2 separate regions of the Homo sapiens genome follow, and region 2 is linked to region 1. A link means that fine-mapping ties the variant in region 1 to the expression of a gene that starts in the linked region. Tissue or cell type: whole blood. Region 1 holds a variant in brackets; the other region holds the start of a gene. All regions are shown on one strand. Distances are between the middles of the regions.

Region 1 (7,845 bases):
GCTGCAAGCTGGTGGGGAGGAGAGAACCCACCTGAGAGAAACCTCAGGACTGGGGTCAAGTCCTGACCACCAGAGTCCAGAGAGACATGAAGGACTGTGACCAGCTCTGAGCAGAGAGATGGATTCCATGACCTCAACTGGTCCCTTTTGTTCGGAGACTCGTGACTGGACTTCATTCATCCACTCATTCATTCATTCACTCAGCAGACACTTATCTAGCGCTCCCTGTGGCTGGTCCTGCCTCATACTGTCTTTGCTCTGGAGAATTGGAGGTTGGGGTTCCTGAGGGGCAGGGTCCTGGAGACAAGGACACTCCTGGGTAGAATTAGGACCTACCCCCCAGGAAATCAACGGGGACCAGGTGCCGTGGCTCACACCTGTAATCCCAGCACTTTGGGAGGCCGAGACGGGCGGATCACAAGGTCAGCAGTTCAGGACCAGCCTGGCCAACATGGTGAAACCCGCCTCAACTAAAAATACAAAAATTAGCCAGGTGTGGTGTCAGGCACCCGTAATCCCAGCTACTGAGGAGGCTGAGGCAGGAGAATTGCTTGAACCCGGGAGGCAGAGGTTGCAGTGAGCCGAGATTGCGCCACTGCACTCCAGCCTGGCGACAGGGCGAGACTCCATCTCAAAAAAAGAAAACCAATGGGACAGGGCAGATATGGGGACAATGGTAAGGAGATGGGAGAGTGGGAGGGAGGTGTCAGGAAGACCTTCTTGACTTCATGTAGGCTGGTGGGGGTGTTAGCCAGCAAGCCTCCAGTTCCCTGGGAACCGTTCTCAGGGTACCAATTTTACCACCTGTCTGCAAACACTTTAAGATTCTTAATCAGACTCAAATTGGCCACAAATCAGGTAAACAAACTCACTAGTGGGGTGGGGCTACCACCCGTTCTGACCCTCCAGCCCAACCCAGCCCAGCCACCCTGCCCTCCGTAGAGCCTGTGGTGTTTATCGGTGGCATTGGGAGAATTAGTGTGTATTTATGTTGGCGTGGGGTGTGGGGTGGATTTGTGTGTGTGCAGTTAGGCCTAGTGGAAGGAATGTGGGATCTGAAGGCAGGCCAGCCTGAGTTCCAGTCCTGCCTGTTGCTCACAAGCTTTATGAGGCGAGAGCTAACCCCTGCCAGCCTCAGTTGTCTTCTTTGCAAGATGGAGGTTGCAGCCCCAGTCTCTGGAGCATGTTATGCAGATCCACCGAGAGTGCCTGCCAGGCACACAGTAGGTGCTCAGCTCAGTTACTGTGGCGGCCCCCACTCCCCATTGTTGTTGTTTTCCTATTGCCTGGCGGCCACAGCTGGTATCCCTTGAAAAGGGCTACAGGGGGTGGAGTCGGACCCTGCCCCAGCCCTGTGGAGACCCTGGGCTTGGGCCAGGGCCTGGGGTCTGGGCCTGCAGACAGCTGTGTCTATAAAGCAGCTGAAGGGCTGAGGCCGGGGGAGGTCCTGGCAGCAGGGCGTTATTTTGGGCCTGGCCTGCCACCCCCAGCTCCTGTTTCTCTTGGGAGTCTGTTGGGGGAGGAAGTGTGGGGAAGAGGAGGGGGTGCAAGTGGGTGAGGCATGGAGTGGGGAGGCCTCCCTCAGGGACATGGACCCTTGAGTTCTATTTCTGTTCCTCCCTCCTGTTCCTCCCTCTTTGTCCTTATCTGCCTAGAGAGGTGGGAATAGAGGCCATTCTGAGTATCACTAGGAGACCACCAGTTTGTGGCCACTGGCCACTGGCCCAGGCAGGGAACCTGGGGGCTTGCCCTACCAGCCTCTCCCAGCAATCTGAAGGCAGGGGGTACCTCGTATTACCCCCTAGGATTTGACCTTAGGCTCCAACTTGCTGGGAGAGCAGTGCCTCTGGTGTCAGACCCCAAGCCAGCCCTTGTGCTGTCCCTGAATCTGCATGTAGCCTGTGGGAGGCGGAGCAGTGACCGGCAGGAATTCTGGGCAGCTCAGGCACCTGTGGGCCTGAGGGTGCCCTCTGCCCCCACCCTTCCGATCTCCTGGGCAAGACACGCCAGGTGATTCATCTCACCAGAGCAGAAAAACAAGTTCAACTGGGCACTTTAATCTCCCCTCACTGGCAGGCCTGGTGTGAGCTGCTACCCCGGCGCCCCTCACCAGGGGTGCTTTACCTCCTCTAGTATTCCTGACCTTAGTGGGCATTTCTGGTCTCAGGGATACCAGGCTGGGGTCCAAGTGGGCCAGGTGTGGCAGTTCAGCCCTATGCCCCATGGCTGATGGCTCGCGCTGGGCAGGTATGCAGGGCTGACGTAGTGCCTTTGTGGCAGCAGTTTCGTGGCACACATTCTGCCAGCTGGTTCTGGAGTCTTGCCCTGAGGAGGTGGCCAGGGTGAGGGTGCCAGCGCAGGAACCTTTGGCGCATGCTTCACCCTGGCCTGGGATCTGCAGCCTGGGTCCAGATGCCCACAACTGGAATCTGACGCTCCTTTTCTCTTCATGGGGGACTCCCAGAGGTCTCTGCAATGACCAGAGCCCCGGTTGTCCCATGCCTCAGCTGCAACTCCAGCTGACCCTCCTTCCCCACTCTCTGGGTGGCATTACGGGGGTGTGGATCCCTTGCCAAGAGGTTGGCATGTGGGTGTGCTGGAATGGCATAGGGAGAATGCACCGAGTTTGTTTGCTTGGGAGAGGGGCAGGGGGTATCCAGAAGATTCATGATTCGTCATCGCCTCTCTTGGGGGATTTTTACCCCTTTGCCCTGAGTTGTGCCTTTGGGACAAAGGAAGCCTTTCTTTGCCAGCCAACACCCTGTACTGGCGGGCGAGCTCCCCAGGGCTGGCACGCTGGGGCAGCCTCTGAATGCACAGGGTGGGCCTAGTCAGAAGAAGCCTTTCCCCTGAAATCCCTCTACTTCCCAAGCACGCAAGCTTTCTCCTGCTGTTAAACCTGCAGTGTGCAAGGGACATGGGCGGAGGGGTCCTTCAGTCAGGCTTCTCCCTGTCTGAGGTGGCATGACTTGGAGTGAGTTTGGATGGGGTGGCCAGGTCTGAGAAGGTCCCCCGCCAGTGTCCTCTGACCCATCTGCTCTCTCCTGCCAGTGTGCACCGGCACAGACATGAAGCTGCGGCTCCCTGCCAGTCCCGAGACCCACCTGGACATGCTCCGCCACCTCTACCAGGGCTGCCAGGTGGTGCAGGGAAACCTGGAACTCACCTACCTGCCCACCAATGCCAGCCTGTCCTTCCTGCAGGTGAGGCCCGTGGGCAACCCAGCCAGGCCCTGCCTCCAGCTGGGCTGAGCCCTCTGTTTACAGGTGGGTGGCAGAAGAAGGTGCCCTGCCCTTCTGTTTCCTCTCTTGTTGTGGTTTCTCAACCAGGAAGTCCTTTCTAACATCTAACCCCCATTCATTTTACTGCAGAATCAGTTGACTCTCTCTATAACGTGGCTGGCCGAGGTCATGTCTGGATGGGATGCGTCTGTGTTTCCGCTAAATCTTGTGCTCTCTTGCCAGCATGATCATGTCCCCTGTCCACCTGCTCCAGCCACTATCCCTCTCCCACTTA[C/T]AGCAGAAGAAAGGGCTGGTGAGAAAGGTGGATTACAGGCCCACTTCTGCCACTGACGAGCCCTATGAATGTGGCCTACACCCCCTTAGCTTCACTGGGTCTCAGTTTCCCTATCTGTATATTGGGAGCAGTTGTGAAGCTCAGAAGAGAAATGTCTGTGAAAAGGTTATGAACAGGAGGGAGAGTGGAAACCAACCTGCTGGATCGTGTCCACAGACCCTGGAATGGGGCCACATGCTTGGTTTGTCAAATTGCAGACGCCGGCCGGGTGCGATGGCTCATGCCTGTAATCCCAGCACTTTGGGAGGCCGAGGCGGACAGATCACTTGAGGTCGGGAGTTCGAGACCAGCCTGACCAACATGGAGAAACCCCGTCTCTACTGAAAATACAAAATTAGCCAGGCATGGTGGCACATGCCTATAATCCCAGCTACTTGGGAAGGCTGAGGCAGGAGAATCACTTGAACCTGGGAGACGGAGGTTGTGGTGAGCCTAGATCGTGCCATTGTACTCCAGCCTGGGCAACAAGAGTGAAACTCCGTCTCAAAAAAAAAAAATTTGCAGACGCCATCCCATCCAGGCCTTTGCTTTCACTGATGAAGAAACTGAGATACAGAGAGGGCAGGGCACCTGTTCGGAGTTTATGAAATGCCCCCCCACCATTATCTTTCTTGATCATATAAGAATCTGGTGAGGCAAGGTAGGGCGTGATCTTTATCTCTATTTTATCGTTTTATTTAAGCGGGAACAGGACTGCTCAGTGGCTGGGGGCCTTGCCCAAGATCTCCAAGTACTGGGGAACCCCAGGGAGGCCCTGGGGGGTGGCAGTGTTCCTATTTCAGCCCCACTCTGCTTCCCCCTCCCAGGATATCCAGGAGGTGCAGGGCTACGTGCTCATCGCTCACAACCAAGTGAGGCAGGTCCCACTGCAGAGGCTGCGGATTGTGCGAGGCACCCAGCTCTTTGAGGACAACTATGCCCTGGCCGTGCTAGACAATGGAGACCCGCTGAACAATACCACCCCTGTCACAGGGGCCTCCCCAGGAGGCCTGCGGGAGCTGCAGCTTCGAAGCCTCACAGGTGGCCTTCACCGTCATTGAAACCTTCTCTTGGTTATTCAGAGCTGACCAGGGCCACTGCTAACCAGGGGGAGGCTTTGTGTGCATTAGAAATGGTGTCCCTTCTGGGCAGACGCAGGCAGAGCCCGGGAAGACGCCCTCAGAAGATTGGAAAAAGATTCCCCTTCTTCCTGGGAAGTTGTAGCTTGCGTCAGCACATATAATTCAATCGTGAGAATGCAGGCTGGGTTTTTGCCCCCACTTGGCTGAGTGAAGTGTACAGTGAACAACCTATGTAACTATTTGCTGGCCCTGGAGCCGACTCTGCCCCAGAGTCTGGGTGCCAGGTGCTTTGCCCGCATGGCCCATTTCAGTCACGCTGCAGTCCTGTCAGGAAAAAATCAGTGTTATTCTCATTCTACATATGAGAAAACTGAGGCTTGCAGATATAAGGGCCAAAAGTTACACAGCTAGTGAGTGATGGGGCTGAGTTTCAGACTCCACAGTCTCTTAACCACCAAGCAGCATGCCCAGAGTAGAGGTGAGAAGGAAGGAGAGAGCTGCGGTCCACATGAGCATCTGGACCTAGCATGGACAACTCACTCCTCCCTGGCTCTCGCTTTGTTCTTGTTGCGGGTGTGGTGGTGGTGGGACTCAAAGACGGTAAAGATAGCTTTCTCTCCTCCCTGGGGAATCTGGGGGTTGTTTAAAAGGCCTGCTCCTCTTTTAGAAGGCAGGAGGGCCCCAAGGGAAGCAGAAGGTGACAGAAGGGGAAAGGGTCCTCTGATCATTGCTCACCCCACAGAGATCTTGAAAGGAGGGGTCTTGATCCAGCGGAACCCCCAGCTCTGCTACCAGGACACGATTTTGTGGAAGGACATCTTCCACAAGAACAACCAGCTGGCTCTCACACTGATAGACACCAACCGCTCTCGGGCCTGTAAGCCATGCCCCTCCCTGCTGCCTCTTCTCTCAGACAGCCTGACCCCAGCCGCAAACTCCCAACTTACAACCCAGTGCCTGCCCGCCACTGCCCCAGCCGCCTACACCACCCATTTCCTCCCTCTCTGTCCCTCCTGCCATCTCCCTGTGCCTCTTCATCTCTGGGGTTCTCTGTCTTGTCTCCCTCTGCTTATAGGTTGTGCCTCTGGTTTGGGGGCCTCTCAGCCTGTCTGGGTCCCTCCCTTGCTGTGCAGTTGGCCTCGTGGCCTCTGCTGCTGTTTGTGCCTCTCTCTGTTACTAACCCGTCCTCTCGCTGTTAGACATCTCTCTCACTGCCTGTCTCTGGTTCTGTCCTCAGGCCACCCCTGTTCTCCGATGTGTAAGGGCTCCCGCTGCTGGGGAGAGAGTTCTGAGGATTGTCAGAGCCGTGAGTCTCAGGGAGGCCTGGAGTCAGGGAAGGGGAGGGCTGGGGCCGGGTGGAATGCAGGTGTCATACAGGTGACATGGGAGGGGTGGGATAACAGGCTTGGGATGTCTCCCCTGGGCCAGGTAGTCTCCCTAGAAGGTGATGCTGATGAGGGTCTGGTGCCCAGGGCGCCACTCAGCCCTCATCCTGCCCTTTGCCCAACAGTGACGCGCACTGTCTGTGCCGGTGGCTGTGCCCGCTGCAAGGGGCCACTGCCCACTGACTGCTGCCATGAGCAGTGTGCTGCCGGCTGCACGGGCCCCAAGCACTCTGACTGCCTGGTATGTGCCTCTGCTTTGTGCCCAATGTGCTCTACCCCCCAGGATGCAAGGGGTGGGCACCCTGCCTGGTACTGCCCTATTGCCCCTGGCACACCAGGGCAAAACAGCACAGTGAAAGCCAGCCACCTGTCCCCCCAGGCCTGCCTCCACTTCAACCACAGTGGCATCTGTGAGCTGCACTGCCCAGCCCTGGTCACCTACAACACAGACACGTTTGAGTCCATGCCCAATCCCGAGGGCCGGTATACATTCGGCGCCAGCTGTGTGACTGCCTGTCCCTGTGAGTGCCAGGGAGAAACACAGTTTTCTCATTTTGGTGGGGAGGTTTGTTTCTGTAAATGGGAGCATATGGGGAGCACTGTCTGCATCTTGCTTTGAGAGCTGGTCATGACAGTTCCTGCCGAGCTGCCTTGTTCTTTCAACAGCTGTGGAGCAGGTGGCAGTAAGGAGAGGCAGCTAAGAGCCCAGACTTGGGAGCCAGACTGCCTGGGTTTGAAACCCAGCTCTATCAATTAGTAGGCACGTGACCCTCTTGCTGTGCCTCAGTTTCCTCATCAGTAAAATGGGGGCAAGAATAGTCCCAACTGCATAAGATGGTTATAACATTTGAAAGAGTTAATATTTGTAAAGCTCTTAGAACGGTGCCTGGTATGTACTAAGTGCTCCTAAATGTTAGCTTTTATTCTATAGCCTGGTGAGGTCAGTTTTACCTTTCGTTTTGTTTTTGAGACCGAATTTAGTTAGCTCTATCGCAGTGGCGCGATCTCGGCTCACTGCAACCTCCGCCTCCCAGGTTCGTGCTATTCTCGTGTCTCAGCCTCCTGAGTAGCTGGGATTACAGGCGCCCACCACCATGCCTCGCTAAATTTTGTATTTTTAGTAGAGACAGGGTTTCACCACGTTGGCCAGACTGGTCTCGAACTCCTGACTTCAGGCGATCCACCTGCCTCGGCCTCTGAAAGTGCTGGGATTACAGGCGTGAGCCACTGCACCCGGACTTTTTTTTTTTTGGCAGAGTCTCGCTCCATTGCCCAGGCTGGAGTGCAGTGGTGCAATTTTGGCTCACTGCAACCTCTGCCTTCCGCATTCAAGCAATTCTTGTGCCTCAGACTCTTGAGTAGGTGGAACTACAGGCATGCACCACCATGGCTGGGTAATTTTTGTATTTTTAGTAGAGACGGAGTTTCACTATGTTGGCCAAGCTGGTCTCGAACTCCTGACCTCAAGTGATCCACCCGCCTTGGTCTCCCAAAGTGCTGGGATTACAGGCATGAGCCATCGTGCCTGGCCTAGCTCAGTTTTATTTAACAGATCACCTATTTACTGATGGGCGTTTATGGACTGGGCTCAGACCTGGGGAACCTCTTTCCTCCTCTCACAGGAACAGGAGTGGGCCTTCAGATCCTGGCTGACTGTGTTAGGGAGAGGACAAAATGTAGAGCCAGACCATTTGGGTTCAAATCCTCGCTCCTCCACTCACTAGCACAATGACCTTGAATAATTTACAGAACTCTCTGCTTTGGTCTCCCTTTTTGCAAAATGGGAATCTCACAGTGCTGATCCCGTCTGGTTGTTGTGAGGG
Region 2 (7,845 bases), 72 kb before region 1:
CTGCCTTACCTCCCCCCACAGCCCTCATGGATCCTTCTCTACCAGGAGGGCACTGTTTTGTAGGCTTCAGTCCTTTTGTGGGCAAGGGAAGGTGCCCGGCAGGGTTGGGGCTTGTCAGGGAAGAATCGAGGGCCCTAGAGAGAGGGGCACAGCACTAAGTCTTAGCTTGAGGGGTTGTGCTCCAAGGCTGGAGCTCTCACACTTGGCTCAAGATGAAGCTCTGCCGCGTCCCCAAGGTCAGGGTAGGGTGATTTATTGTGCTTTTATTGCCTGGATAGCTTGCCCAGAGCCAGCAGGAGGTACTGGGCTGGGAGCTGGGGGCTGGGTGGGGCAGCGGGCACATACAAAGCACCCTCTGTGCCTGTCCCCGAGTTGGCAGGAGCATAGCACCCTGCTCACTGTGCCGGAGGTTTCCAGCCTGGCCCTACCCCTCTGGGCCTTCTGAGGGGAGGGGCCACTGGCAGACCAAGAAGGAACTGCAGCAACTCCCCATTCCCCACCCCCAGCCCCTCCTCAGCATCTTGTCTGTGGCCTGTGAACTTTGTGTCGCATATGTTCTAAGATCCTGCCAGCTCCTGCAGCCTCTCCTCAGTGGCCCCTCAACCTCTGCCATCCCCCAGAACCCCTGGCCTTGGCCCCTTTCTCTAACCCCTTGCTCCTTTCCATCTTTTGGAAACTTGTCTCCAGCTGCCCACACTGTTCCCTTCCCAGCCCTATCTGAGCAGGTCTTTGGAGGCTGGGGGGGTTGCTTTCTAGGTCACCGCAGAGGGAGCTGGGAACCTGGGGATGTGGGTCAAGATTGTGGGGGCCGCATCTGAGCATGCCGCATCCCCCGGCACAGACTGCACTGGCTGCAGACTATTATGTCCTCAGCCTCGGAATTGTTCTGTCCCTTGGAGCCCGGGGCAGGAGTATGTGGATTGGCATCTATGACTGGGCAGTGCCAGGGAGTGGGGACTATGCATCGCATGGGAGGTAGGATCAGGGTAAGCAGTGAGCCCTCAGCAGGCTGGGCACCCCCAAGAAATGGAAAGTGGCAAATCCCCAGGCCCTGGTTCCTACGCCCTGTGCCTTCTGCCTGGGCTTGAAGCTGGGAGACACTGTCTCCCGTACTGGGTACTTGGAAAATCAAGCTCTCCAGCCAGGGAATGTTAAGCTGCTGCTGTGCCCGCCTGGTCTTGCCCAGCCTAGTGCCCTATGGTGTGGGGGAGCTGCCTGGGGGCTAGCATCTTAGGACAGCTTAAGAGCCAAACATGATCAAATCTACCCCTGGCTGCCTCTGCCCTGGTCTGACACCCATCAGGCTGACCTGTCAACTTTGGCCTTTGAACTTGGGCCCCTGAGGGGGTATTCTCTGCCCCAGGCCTACGGGAAGGAGGCTGGGGGCTAGGCCACAGGCTATCTCCAGATCCATGGGCTGTGTCTAGCTGACCCTTGCTTTCCTCGGTCTCCTCTGTGCCAGCTGTGCAGCGCATTGCTGAGTCTCACCTGCAGTCTATCAGCAATTTGAATGAGAACCAGGCCTCAGAGGAGGAGGATGAGCTGGGGGAGCTTCGGGAGCTGGGTTATCCAAGAGAGGAAGATGAGGAGGAAGAGGAGGATGATGAAGAAGAGGAAGAAGAAGAGGACAGCCAGGCTGAAGTCCTGAAGGTCATCAGGCAGTCTGGTAAGCTGAGGGGCCTGTGACATGTGGATTAGCTGTGGGTCCTCCTTGAGTATACGAGGACGTCCCCTTCTAGTTCAGTGTCTCATACACGCAAACTGTAGTGACACCACAGGGGCCTCCCTGTCTTCTCGCTCCATGGGGTGCCCCGAACTCAGCCCTACCTGAGACATGGGTTTCCTCCATCCTTGGCTCAGTCCCTCTCCCAATCAGGTTTTCCCTAATAATTCCTCTCTTCCCTGAGAATTAAGGCCAAGGCCGTTTGGGGTTTGAGGCTAGAGCCAAAAGAGGACTTCCCACCTATGGCAGTAAGGGGGCGTGAGGACATTCAGGGATGGAGGACCAGGAGAGTCCAACACCCCTGTCACCTGCATTTCACCTACATTTTTGAACCTAGGATGTGGTCTCTGCTGGGGTGCAGAGGGCTGCCTCATTTACTTGCCCTCTCCAGGACTGTTGTCTGTTTCTCCTCTTTTTCCTTCCTAGGATGGAGTGGGAGGGTGCCCTCTAGTGTTTAGATGTAGAATTTAAAATTCAAGAACCAGCCCGGCCCATTAACCTTTTTAGTCTCATTATTTATGGGAATACTGAAGAGTCAACCACCCCTACTAGAAGCTGTCAGCTCTTCCACACAAACAAAAGGCCTTGGGCCTCCTGCCTGCATATCTGGCAGTGAAGAGATTGGCCATGGGGGCAAAAGCTGTTGCTGGGCTTCAGTCCCTTTGTGGGCAAGAGACAGCTGGAAGACCTGAATCAGTCCTCACTGAGACCCCTCCAAAACAGTGGAAGAGGGGTGAGAGGAGACTGTTCCCTCAGGAAAAGCAGCAGGTGGCTGGGTGCGGTGGCTCATGCCTGTAATTCCAGCACTTTGGGATGCCAAGGCTAGCGGATCACTTGAGGTCTGGAGTTCAAGACCAGTCCAGCCAACATGGTGAAACCCCATCTGTAATAAAAATACAAAAATTAGCCAGGCACAGTGGCACACACCTGTAATCCCAGCTGCTTGGGAGGCTGAGGCAGAAGAATCCCCTGAACCTGGGAGGTGGAAGTTGCAGTGAGCTGAGATCGCACCACTGCACTCCAGCCTGGGCAACAGAGTGAGACTCCATCTCAAAAACAAAAACAAAAAACCAAAACAAAACAACAAAAAAAAACAAACAAACAAAAAATGCAGAAGGGCACCGGGTCAAATGATAGTCCTATGATGGAGCAATATAAACCACCACGACTCCTAGTGGCTCCTGGGTGCTGGCGCTGGGCTGGGCAGGGTATTCACTATTACATCTTGTTTAAGGTAATCTACACAATTTCCCCCTTTCTATTTCCTTCAGAAAGGTACTAACTGACTTACGTAAGCCATATGGCTAGTTGCTGGGAGAGCTGTTCTAGCCCAGTTCTCTCTCCATGCTTCCATGATGCCCCTGGAAAGCTTAACCTCAGCCATCAGACACTTAGCTCACACTCCAGGACAGCCGGATGGATACGCAGAGCCTGTGTTCTTATCTCTTCTTTCCCATCCCCAGCTGGGCAAAAGACAACCTGTGGCCAGGGTCTGGAAGGGCCCTGGGAGCGCCCACCCCCTCTGGATGAGTCCGAGAGAGATGGAGGCTCTGAGGACCAAGTGGAAGACCCAGCACTAAGTGGTAAGGCTTGGGAGTGTGAAATGGGGAGGAGGGGCTGGGATCTTGGTGGGTGGGGCCAGGCCCTGAGTCCCTCTCTGCTTGCCTTTCAGAGCCTGGGGAGGAACCTCAGCGCCCTTCCCCCTCTGAGCCTGGCACATAGGCACCCAGCCTGCATCTCCCAGGAGGAAGTGGAGGGGACATCGCTGTTCCCCAGAAACCCACTCTATCCTCACCCTGTTTTGTGCTCTTCCCCTCGCCTGCTAGGGCTGCGGCTTCTGACTTCTAGAAGACTAAGGCTGGTCTGTGTTTGCTTGTTTGCCCACCTTTGGCTGATACCCAGAGAACCTGGGCACTTGCTGCCTGATGCCCACCCCTGCCAGTCATTCCTCCATTCACCCAGCGGGAGGTGGGATGTGAGACAGCCCACATTGGAAAATCCAGAAAACCGGGAACAGGGATTTGCCCTTCACAATTCTACTCCCCAGATCCTCTCCCCTGGACACAGGAGACCCACAGGGCAGGACCCTAAGATCTGGGGAAAGGAGGTCCTGAGAACCTTGAGGTACCCTTAGATCCTTTTCTACCCACTTTCCTATGGAGGATTCCAAGTCACCACTTCTCTCACCGGCTTCTACCAGGGTCCAGGACTAAGGCGTTTTTCTCCATAGCCTCAACATTTTGGGAATCTTCCCTTAATCACCCTTGCTCCTCCTGGGTGCCTGGAAGATGGACTGGCAGAGACCTCTTTGTTGCGTTTTGTGCTTTGATGCCAGGAATGCCGCCTAGTTTATGTCCCCGGTGGGGCACACAGCGGGGGGCGCCAGGTTTTCCTTGTCCCCCAGCTGCTCTGCCCCTTTCCCCTTCTTCCCTGACTCCAGGCCTGAACCCCTCCCGTGCTGTAATAAATCTTTGTAAATAACTGCTGAGACTCCTCTTTCAGGGGAAGCAGGAGGAAAAGGGAGGTAATGGGGCGTCCTGATAGGGAAGGCCGGTGGTCAACCAAGGGTTAGGGTTTTGACCCTACTGTCCAATCCTCTAGTCTAGGAGTCTTTCTGGCAGACAGCAGGCTCGGGGCACTCAGAGGAAGAACTACAGAAGTTCTAGCTGCTGCTTGGGATGGCTGAAGGAGGCAGGTGGGGTGGGGAAGTCCTTCTCGAATAACTGGATTCCTCCAAAGATTTCCCCATCCCCACAGGACTCCCCTCGGGAAATTCCCCTTTTTCCCTCAGTGCCAGGCCTGTGTGGCCTAATAACGACGGCCCTGGTCTTCTTCCCACTCCCCTACCCTTAGGTAGGCCCTTAGACTCCGGCCTTTGAGTCCGCTTCTGCGCAGGGCCGGGGCTGGAGGCGGGGCGAAGGGGCGGGGCCGCAGGCGAACGCAAGTCCCGCTTCGCTCTCGGGGGCGGACTCAGCGGCGGAAGTGGCGCTGCCGGAAGATCTTCTTCCGCTCTGAGGCGCTACTGAGGCCGCGGAGCCGGACTGCGGTTGGGGCGGGAAGAGCCGGGGCCGTGGCTGACATGGAGCAGGTGGGTCCCGGAGCGGTCGCTGGGAGCGGGTGGCGTGCGAGGGCCGTCTTCCGCCGGTCGAACCCGCTTCGCCGCCCGCTGTCCGTGCTGGGTTCCGTCCGACCCTTCCCACACCCGCTGCGTCTCAGGTTCCGCCCCCTTCCTCTGTCTGGCCTCGCGCCGCCCCGCGCGGGTTGGGGTCTCCAGCAATGACTCTTGGCGACCCCGCCTATCCTGGGGAGCCCGGGGAGGACGTTCGGGATCTCCTTCCAAAGCCTCCGTCTTAACTGAGGGGAGAGGAGAGGGTGAGGTGTCTGGGTGTTATGAGCAGGGGCAGGTATGGGGAGGGGTCGGAATCTGGGGTGAGAGGAAAACATCTACGCATTCCGGTAGCTCTGCGTCTCAGTGTCATCCCGTGTCTCCCCAACTTCCTTTCGAAACGGCCGTGAATAACTTCCTAATTGGTATTAAAAGGGCCCTTTGAAGTCTTGAGTTCTTAGAGGTGCATAGTACCATTGACACTCATTTCTAATGACACGTTCCCTCACCCCGCATTTTTGGGTTAGTCAATGTCTCCTGGTTTTCTTCGTACCGCTCTGACAGTCGGTCAAAGTCCCGCTTCACGTTTTCCTCTGTCGCCCAACCCCTCGCTCTGTACACTGAATCTCAGTGGTCTTATTTTCCCCCACGGCTTCAGCTTTACACCAACTAAATACCCAGATCCACATCTTCAGCGCAGCCCTTCCCTGGAGCTCCACGCTTGCCCATCCAGCGGCCATTGGGACAGCTCTGCTTCACATGGAGCTCACTGGGTCCAAACTTGAACTGGTCTTTTCCTTGCAGATTAATTCTTCCTCTACCCCAACCCAGCCGGAAGTCTGGTAATTTCCTTACACTTTCTCCTCTCTTTCAAGTCCCACATCTTAAAAGTGACCTAGTACTGCCAACTTCCTGAACATCCTTCAAACCTGGGCCAGCTCCATCTCTTCTGTTACCACGCTGTTGATGTATTGTCAATTCCCAACAGTCCAGCCCTGGCAGCTTGCAACCCAGTCTCCAAACTGTAACTCTTGTGATCCTTTTAGAACACAAGTCTTACGGTGCCAGTTCCTTGCTGATAACCTTTTTCTGGCTTTCTATTGCCTATGTGCTGAACCCCTAGCACAATTTACACAGCTCTCTGTGATCTGACCTAGCAGTCTCCTGTGTGCACCCTAAGGTCCAATAATACGGCACTGCAGCATGCGCCATGCCTACCCTTGCTGTTCGTATCTTCATGACTTTGCACACACCAGCCCCCGCTGCTTGGAAACCTCCTCCTTCTCTTGTCTGCTGGGCTACCTTCTACATGTTTTTCAGCGCAGGCAGCGCTGCCTCCGCCTAACCCCCAAGGTTAATTGCCCTTCTGTGTCCTGTAGCACCCTGTCCATAATAGCATAGTAGCTGAGAATACAGACTCCTGGATCAGACTGCCTGGGTTCTGACCTGTTTGGTAACCTTGATGAAGTCAGTGCCTCAATTTCCTCACTTGTAAAATGGAGGTAGGAATGTCTCTACTTCATAGAGTTGTGAGGATTGAATGGAATATTGTATGTTTAGGTCTTAAACCAGTGCTAGGCACAAGAATGCTCAATAAATTAAAGTGAGTTGCCTGGGTGCAGTGGCTCATGCATTAATCCTAGTACTTTGGGAGGCAAGGCAGGATGATCGCTTGAGGCCAGGGGTTTGCAACTAGCTTGGGCAACATAGTGAGACCCCATCGCTACAAAAATTTAAAAAACTAGCTGAGCATGGTGGTACGTGTGGGAGGATCCTTTGAGCCCAGGAATTTGAAGTTACAACGAGATATGGTTGTGCCACTGCACTCTAGTGTGAGGGACAGAGTGAGATCCTGTTTCTAAAATAAATAAATAAAAAGTTATTACTATTATGTAAGGACAACATAGTTCACCAGTTATGATTTTTAATTTCATAAGTTGCCTGAGGATGGTTGAAGTGGCTTACTAGTCATTGGATAGAGCCTGGCTCTTTGCCAATAAATAAAATGCTGGAGTGGAGGACACTGGGGGCAGGGTCTGGATTTATTGAGTGAAGATTCAAGAGTGAAAAAGGCTCAGACCTGGTCTGCTCAGGAAAACCAGTCTGGAAGTGTGTGTGTGTTACATGGCAAGCATTAAATCTAGAGAAATGTATAGATCTGGGAACTAGAGGGAGAAAAAGACCAGGGGCGGCTTCTGAGGAGCTGACAGTTAATGGGGCCTATAAAGCGATGGGAGGATTTTATCAGAGGGAGGCAGAGGCTGGAGTGGGCTCAGAGATCAGAAAGCTGGGTCCTCTGAACAGAGCTCCAGTAGATGGTGGCTGGGTGGGGGAACAGGGGAGACGGAGCTGAGGAAGACAGAGGCAGCGTCCTTTGCTGACGCTGGCAATTCCTTTCCTGTATTGGCCATGAGGAAGCATCCCTTGACTTGGGAGCCAGCAGGGACCATGCCTGGGGGCAACTATGCTCCGGAGGCCTAGTACCTGGTGTTTGGGACCAGGCCCCCTGGGTAGGGCCATTGTGCATGCCTTTGGGCTGGGCCTTCTTTGGAGCTCTTTTGCCTCCCTGTAATGCCCACCCTCCTTGCCTCCAGCTGATAGATGCTGACTCTTCAAGGCCAGGGTCAGATGGCCCCTCCTCCCTGTGGCTTTTCTGACTTCACTCATTCCAGCCTGGGTCAGATGATCCCTTCTCTGGGAGCCCACGGTCCTTTGTTCATTCCTCCCTGAAAGCGCTGATCACAGCATGGTATTATTTATCTGCCAGTCTTCCTCACCAGACCCAGAGTCCCTGATGGACCAGAACAGGGTCCTGTGGCCCCAGGACTTGCACTGTGTCCAGCATACTGTAGGCCCTTGGAACCCGCATGTTGCATTAAGTTGAGCTCTCACACAGCTAGACTTGTTAAGGGAGAGCGGTGCGGGGGAGATAAAAAATCCGGCACATCTGGCAGCTTGTGCCTGTTCCACTGAATGCGAGAGCCTGTTGGCTCCACTTTACAGATGAGGAAGCTGA

The links. PIP is the estimated chance that this variant, and not a neighbour inherited with it, causes the effect.
Region 2: it holds the start of STARD3, and the variant in region 1 is fine-mapped to the expression of STARD3 in whole blood (TOPMed, PIP above 0.99).

Annotation. Positions count from the first base shown.
Region 1 is chr17:39,703,939-39,711,783 of GRCh38, forward strand. ERBB2 (erb-b2 receptor tyrosine kinase 2) reads left to right here. Exons shown (of 27, transcript NM_004448.4): 2 at 3,052-3,203; 3 at 4,383-4,596; 4 at 5,380-5,514; 5 at 5,875-5,943; 6 at 6,148-6,263; 7 at 6,402-6,543. Among named protein-coding and RNA genes, the nearest start is that of ERBB2, 7.8 kb to the left of the region's middle. RefSeq lists an enhancer at 856-1,728. The variant C/T (reference allele first, on the strand shown) is at 3,517.
Region 2 is chr17:39,632,421-39,640,265 of GRCh38, forward strand. It overlaps STARD3 (StAR related lipid transfer domain containing 3), which reads left to right and starts at 4,724. Exons shown (of 15, transcript NM_006804.4): 1 at 4,724-4,811. PPP1R1B (protein phosphatase 1 regulatory inhibitor subunit 1B) reads left to right here. Exons shown (of 7, transcript NM_032192.4): 5 at 1,463-1,666; 6 at 3,187-3,306; 7 at 3,396-4,204. The coding sequence ends at 3,445. LOC124903998 (a long non-coding RNA gene) reads right to left here and starts at 4,870. Exons shown (of 2, transcript XR_007065749.1): 1 at 4,571-4,870; 2 at 2,218-2,606. RefSeq lists enhancers at 1-781, 2,869-3,492, 5,276-5,395 and a silencer at 4,666-4,735.